2 linked regions of the Homo sapiens genome follow. The protein of the gene in region 2 purifies or fractionates together with the protein of the main gene of each other region. This does not show direct contact. Each region holds a gene or a part of one and is shown on either strand. Other genes may lie near its edges. The genes, in order: DGKE and GRK4.

The links.
Region 1: the proteins of GRK4 (region 2) and DGKE purify together in Homo sapiens (affinity purification with mass spectrometry; one large-scale study listed by BioGRID and IntAct). This does not show direct contact.

Annotation. Positions count from the first base shown.
Region 1 is NC_000017.11:56,843,985-56,847,810, reverse strand, and holds part of DGKE (diacylglycerol kinase epsilon), read right to left. Parts: intron 3,793-3,826; coding exon 3,633-3,792; intron 2,122-3,632; coding exon 2,002-2,121; intron 1-2,001. UniProt on the Homo sapiens protein: Membrane-bound diacylglycerol kinase that converts diacylglycerol/DAG into phosphatidic acid/phosphatidate/PA and regulates the respective levels of these two bioactive lipids.
Region 2 is NC_000004.12:2,966,448-2,970,273, forward strand, and holds part of GRK4 (G protein-coupled receptor kinase 4), read left to right. Parts: intron 1-3,826. UniProt on the Homo sapiens protein: Specifically phosphorylates the activated forms of G protein-coupled receptors. GRK4-alpha can phosphorylate rhodopsin and its activity is inhibited by calmodulin; the other three isoforms do not phosphorylate rhodopsin and do not interact with calmodulin.

The sequences.
Region 1 (3,826 bases), on a different chromosome or scaffold from region 2:
TATGTATTTAACAATATGCCAGGCACCCTGCCAGACTCTTTATATTCATTGTAGCTCATCCCCACACTGACTTTACAAAGCAAGAGTTAGCCTCATTCTATTGGGCTGGAAACTGAGGTGCAGGAAGGTTAAATCACTTGCCTGTGATTGTCCAGGTAATTAAGTGCTGAAATACAAGGCTAGGTGTGGTAACTCATGCCTATAATCCCAGCACTTTGGGAGGCCAAGGCGGGTGGATCACTTGACGTCAGGAGTTCGAGACCAGCCTGGCCAACATGGTGAAATCCTGTCTTTACTAAAAATACAAAAATTAGCCAGTGTGGTGTTGTGTGCTTGTGATCCTAGCTACTCGGGAGGCTGAGGTAGGAGAATCACTTGAACCTGGGAGGCAGAGGTTACAGTGAGCCAAGATCATGCCCCTGCACTCCAGCTTCGGCAACAAAGCAAGACTCTGTCTCAAAAAAAAAAAAAAGTTATAGTTTATCTACTATACCACATTGCCTCCTTCTTGTTCACATAAACCACAATGTGCTAAGTTCACCTTTAATTAGTGTTTCATATCTTATACTGGCTTAAAAAAAAATCACCAGTGCAACTTAGCACAAATTTCTGGAAAGCAATTTTGCAATACATAGAAAATGACATAAAAATGCAAGTAACTTTGATTATCCATAATTCTGTCAACGACCCTAGAAAAATATTTCGAAAGACAAAAATGCCTAAAAATATGTATAAAAATATTCACTGTGGCATTATTTATAGTACAATCATAGAGACAGTGTTACCTTTCAACAGTAGAGACTGGATAAATAATGCTATTTCCATTCAATTATTTTAGTCATTAAATATGTAACTATGAGGACTATGTTGAAACAAGGAAAAATATTTATACCATTAAAATTAAAAAAATCAGAATGCAAATTTGTATCTAGATTATTGTTATAGTACTGTTAATATGTAAAGTAAATGCATAGATAATTAATGGAAAGAACAAGAAAAAAGAGAACTGATGTATTTGTATGGAGAAATTGCAAATGATTTTCTCTGTATTTTTTATAATTTTCTTAAACTGTATAATATTGAAAGTGTAAAAAATACAAATTGGAAGGACAAAGTTATTGCACTTCTAATTGCTACACAATGGGTTGTCTTTAAAATTTTTTTGTATTTTTTTGTTTTTTGGTTAATTTTTCAAAGTAAAATTATATTCAATTTTAACGATCCCTTTTATTTTTAAAACTGAGGTATAATTTACATATAAGATTCACCCATTTGAAGTGAACAAGTCAATAATTTTTATTAAGTTCACTGAATTGCACAACCACCACCATCATCCAGTTTAGAACATTTTTGTTGCTTCAATAAGATCCCTCAATGTCCATTCGCAATCACTCCCCATTTCCAGCCCTAGAACCAATAATCTATTCTCTACCTCTACAGACTTGCCTTTTCTAGACAAGTCACATAAGTGGAGTCATACAATATAAGGTCCCTTGTATCTGCCTTCTTTCACTTAGTATGTTTTTGAGGTTCATTTATTGTAATATATACGTATCAGTAGTTTGTTCCTTTTTGTCATTTCATGGTATTCCATTGTAGGGCTACATCACATTTTGTTTATCAACTCATCAGCTGATGAACAGCTGGGCTGTTTATGCTTTTCAGCTATCATGAATAATGCTGCTGTGAACATTTTCATGCAAATGTTTGTGAGAAATATGTTTTCACTTCCCTTGGGTAGATTCCTAGTAGAGGACTTGCTAGAAGATATAATAAATTTATATTTATCTTTTTAAGAAACTGCCAAGATGTCTTCTAAAGAGGTTGTACCATTTTATATTCCCACAAGAGTGCCTGTTTATCCACATATTTAAATGGCTGATCTTTTTGTAATTATTATTCTTTCCTATGATCAGGTGATTAGTGACTTGAAGCATTAATAATCATTGCATTTTGGGGAAAATGAAAACATTAATATAAAAAGTTTTTTTCTTTAGTTACCTGGACTGGATTCAACAAGATCCTAAATTCTCCCAACAGTCCTTCTCCCATATTAGTTCCACTACGAGAGTTGGCCAGGATTATTAATGGGGTCCACTGCTTTCCAAGCTTAGAGGCTAGCTAAAAAAAATTGCCATGAGTGAAAAGGTTTAGTATCTTAAAGATGAAAAGCACATTTTCCATGCCTTGAGAACAATGGTGCTATAATTTGCTGAAATAAAAACTATACTAGTTCTCTCAATTCAATATAAAAATCAAAGAATTCTAAGAATGGAAGGGAACCTCAGAAATTAACTAATTTAAGCTCCCATTCAATGTTTAATTCTCTTCTACATTATTCTAGATAAGTCATCCAGCATATGCTCGCACACTCACATAAGGAACTCACTAGTAATGCAGCCCATTACACTGCTACATCAAATTATTAGAAAGTTTGGACTTAAACTGAGTTGAAAATCTGTCTTTCTATAACTTTCAACCATTCACAGAATAGACACTGATTTTTTTCTCTGACCTTTCACCTTGATTTTCCTTTACTGGATGTATTCTGGTGTGTTTTGCAAGGTTTTATTTCTTTTTTTAAAATGGGGTACTCAGATTAAAAAATCTGGACTTCTAATAGCTCAAAGTCAAATGAAATTAATACTTTTCAAAATGTAACCATTTCTTCTTCCCCTCTCCTTGTAGATGTAACCATTAATGAAGTTATTCTATAGTTTTACTTAGAGATTCTTCTCTCTTGTGATCTCAGGTTGAACTCAGATAAATAAGAGATTGTACATTTAAAAAAACTGTCAAAACAATATTGTTTGAAAAATTTAAAATGTCCCTTCCCTTGCAGGAATATTGACAAAGGTGGCATGTAAGTCATAAAATCTTAATTTGAAAAAGGTACAATTTTAAAATAAAATAGTTCAATTATTTTGGTATATCCAATTAGAAAATAAATCCATAAATTTTTATGATGTTTCCTTAAGAGCTACATAAAGACTGAGAGATTCAATAAGTTACATCAATTTCATACACATATCTACATCTATAAACTGTTAACAGGTTTAGTGTTCACCATTATTTGTGGGAGCATTTAATGTGCAACATAAACTTATCTCTAGGGACCCTGTATAAAGTTCAAAATAGAAAAATAGTTTTAGAAAAAGGTGTGAGGAAAATCTATTTTCTTTTCACTGACAATAATCATGAATCCCAAAACTGACTGTTCATCAGAATCTTCTGAGGACCTTAAAAAAAAAGATGAATTCCTGGACTTACCCTATACCTACTAAATCAAATATGGCAATGAAGGTACTACTCAGAAATCTGTATTTTTAAAAAGCTCCCTAAATCATTCAGATGCAGGCAATGATTTGGAAACCACTAATATAACATTTCCAATTTCCTTTTAGACATGAAAGAACTCAAGAGCCAAAATTTTTGACCCATCTCTAGGAACTAGGTAGGATTTTATGGCTTACCATAATAGCATTTTATTTCTCTCCTTGGTCTTGATCTGTTATTTAAGTTTATTTTATTCCTGGCACCAATTCTTCTTACATACTGTCTTAACTATCTCAAACAATGAGTTAAGCAGCTTTTTAAAAATCAATCATATTAGAGAAATAAACTCTAATTACCACTTCATAATCTGTTTTTTTGTCTTTACGCATCTGATTAATGGATGTTAAATAACTTGGTGGAATGATTAGGTTTTTGAATTCTCCAAAATCACATTTTTCATTCTTTAAACTATTTTTCATGCACTCATCATGTACTGTTTTCTGGCACCAAATGCACCTGAGGGAAGGAAGAAACAAGCATTAACTAATTT
Region 2 (3,826 bases):
GAAATATCTCATATTAACTCCACAGTAGTGTGATTATGAGGCCTGTCCCCATTGAGTGAGAGTATTTGCTCCTGTGGTCAGAAAGCATCATTATGTATAGCTTGATTAATGGTTAGAGAAGTTGAATATATAATATTAGATATACATGGATACATGCTGAGTATTGGTTATAATTTAGGGCTTTTTCCCAAGTTGATGACTGTGTTTGTTACTTTAAAGTATCTCCCAGGAAGTACCAGGAGGTGTCTTCTTGGACACATAACTTCATGGACAGCTCCTTGTTTAGCTTCACTGGCTCATATACTAGAAAATTAACCTTTGAAATGAATGAACGTAGCACAAGAGTTATATTCTGGTCCTGAGAAGCGCAATGTTGATTTAATATTATTAGTGAGTCCGGTCATTTCCTGGATTTATTTCAAATAGAATCAGTCAGTCTCAATCCCCCCTCCCTCTCTGGTCCCTGCTATGGTCTGAATATTTGTGTTCCCCCAAAATTCTTATGTTGAAATCTTCACTACGAAGGGGATGGAATTAGGAGGTGGGGCATTTGGGAGGTGATTGGGTCATGAGAGTGGAACCCTCGTGAATGGTATTAGTGCCTTTATAAAAGAAACTAGAGAGACACCCCTCACTCCTTCTACCATGGACACAGAAAGAAGATGCCAGCTATGAATCAGAAAGTGGGCCCTCACCAGACACCAAATCTGTCTTGATCTTGGACTTTTTAGCTTCCAGAACTGTGAGAAATACATTTCTGCAATTTATAAGCTACTCAGTTTATAGTATTTTGTTAGAGCAGCTTGAACAGACTAAGATGGTCTAAACAGAAGATTGTTAGAGCCTTTTCCTTTCAGGAATGTTGGCAGATGATGCTGCACTGAAAGTGTTTGTGTGTCACTCTGCCAGGGACATGAAGGAAGCGTGAAATGATCATATTGGTTTGGTCTTATTTTGTTTCGTTTTGTTTTGAGACAGAGTCTCACTCTGTCACCCAGGCTGGAGTGCAGTGGTATGATCTCAGCACACTGCAACCTCTGCCGCCTGGGTTCAAGTGATTCTCCTGCCTCAGCCTCCCAAGTAGCTGGGACTACAGGCACCCACCATTCCCGGCTAATTTTTTGTATTTTTAGTAGAGACAAGGTTTTGCCATGTTGGCCAGGCTAGTCTTGAACTCCTGACCTCAAGTGATTCGCCCACCTCAGCCTCCCAAAGTGCTGGGATTACAGGCGTGAGCCACTGCACCCGGCCCGTATTGGGTTTTTGTTGGTGTTTTGTTTTATTTTTTTTTCCTTGATATAATTCATAGGTTCATAGATCATATTGTTAATAAATATAAAAACAATTTTTTTTTGAGGCGTCGTTTTGCTCTTGTTGCCCAGGCTGGAGTGCAATGGCGCAATCGTGATCTCGGCTCACTGCAACCTCTGCCTCCCGGGTTCAAGAAATTCTCCTGCCTCAGTCTCCCGAGTAGCTGGGATTACAGGCATGCACCATTATGCCTGGCTAATTTTGTATTTTTAGTAGAGACGGGGGTTTCTCCATGTTGGTCAGGCTGGTCTCGAACTCCTGATCACAGGTGATCCACCCGCCTCAGCCTCCCAAAGTACTGGGATTACAGGCGTGAGCCACTGTGCCCGGCCTGTTTTGTTTTTTTTTTTAATTTAGGATTTTTTCCCTGTATAATATTATTTGTTAAGCAACTTATAACTTTTATGCTTTAAATAAGCTTAAATTATTTCACATCATACTTCTGAGGAGACTTTAACACCGTCTTATCTCTTGGAGAAATTGAAAACAAATGCAGAGAGGAATACGTAATACGTGCATTTAATGTGGGTTTTGGTCTTATATATTGCAATTCTGTTCTGATTTCAGGCTGCGGTGTTATTGAGCAGTTTCTTTAACACCTGCAGCATGGTTAATATACCTGTTATTATTAATGCTGTCTCTTGCTGAGGCTTCCTCCCTAGAACTTTTGCTAACTTAAGCAAATAGGAAATTTATGGAGAAGATATTGGGTAGCTCAAAGAATCAAAGTAAGAACCTAACAATCAGTCTGGAAAGAACAGGATGTGGGACTCATTCATTCATGCATTCATTTGGCAGATGTGTGCTCAGAATGTTCCAGGTACTGTTCCTATAGCAATAAACAACATGTTCAGAAATTCCTGCCATTCTGGAGACCACATTCTTATAGGGGAGGCAGTCTTGAGGCACATAAATAAGACGTGTGGCATATTAGCAAGCAGTGAGTGCCACGGGAGACTACAGCAGGGATGGGGGTAGGAAGCGCCCAGGTGGCATTGGTAGTTGCAGTTTTGGATAGTTTTAGACAGGGGGCTGCTGATTGATAATCAGGTCTCCACGGTCACTCCTGTGACAGAGCAGGTATCTTTTTATTTTATTTATCTGATTTTGCCTCATGAATTTCATGATTCTTATCCTGGGAGAGAGCACCAATTGGCTGGCTTGGCTCTGGCCCCCTTCCTGCATCCGTGGCTAAGGGGGAACCAGGCAGCTGGAATGACAGTCCCACCAAGACATACACCGTGGGGGAGAAGTAAGGGAAGGGCTGCAGAAGAAACCAACAAAGGGCCATTGCAAGGGCCTGTTTACATGACATAGTAAGCAGGCATAGGCCATATGCGCTAGGGCCAGAGGGGTAGCTAGGAGAACGGAGAGGAAAGAGGAGATCAGAGAGATGCTGAAGGTAGAAGACACTGGATAGAGGAGCGATTGCAGAGAATCCTCAAAGTTGCCTTTGAAATTCCCTAGCTGAGGAAATTAAAAGACTGCTCTTTCTAGTCTTGAACTCCTGACCTCAAATGATCCACCCGCCTTGCCCTTCCAAATTGTTGGGATTCCAGGTGTGAGCCACTGTGCCTGGCCAAATTTTCTTTTCTTTTCTTTTCTTTCTTTCTTTCTTTTCTTTTTTTTTTTTTTTAAAGAGAGTTTCGCTCTTGTTGCCCAGGCTGGAGTGCAATGGCACAATCTCGGCTCACCGCAACCTCCGCCTCCTGGGTTCAAGCGATTCTCCTGCCTCAGCCTCCCAAGTAGCTGGGATTACAGGCATGCACTACCACGCCCGGCTAATTTTGTATTTTTAGTAAAGATGGGGTTTCTCCATGTTGGTCAGGCTGGTCTCGAACTCCCAACCTCAGGTGATCCGCCCACCTCGGCCTCCCAAAGTGCTAGGATTTACAGGCGTGAGCCATGGTGCCCAGCCTTTTTTTTTTTTAAAGACAGGGTCTCACTCTGTTACCCCGCTGGAGTGCAGGTGGGGAAATCATAGCTACTGAAGCCTCAAAGCCTTGAACTCTGGGGCCAAGCAGTCCTCCTGTCTCAGACTCCCAAGTGGCTGGGACCACAGGCATGCGCTGCCATGCACAGATAATTTTGTGGTTTTTGTGGAGATGGGGTCTCACTATGTTGCCCAGGCTAGTCTGGAACCCCTGGACTCAAGTGATCCTACCCTCCCACTTCAGCCTCCCAAAGTGCTGGGATTACAGGGTGAACCACTACACCCGGCCTATTAGAATTTTCAACAGCATGTAAGATCAAGTTTTCTAGAAAGAGTTATAAACTTAGTATTTCTTATCTGTCAGATATTTGAAGTAATCTATGTAGTAGTCAGCCAAATTATTTCTCTGCCAACAAAAGGTTACCCCATTTTCCCTAAGCAATAATGTCTACCGTCTGTTACTATCATTATGGTACAGCTAATTTGGGATGCTATCAATCAGCCAGGTTATTAGCAACCAGGTCAGTTTGGTTTTCTTATATTTTCTACTTTGTCTATCTAGATTATAATGGCTTTAAATCA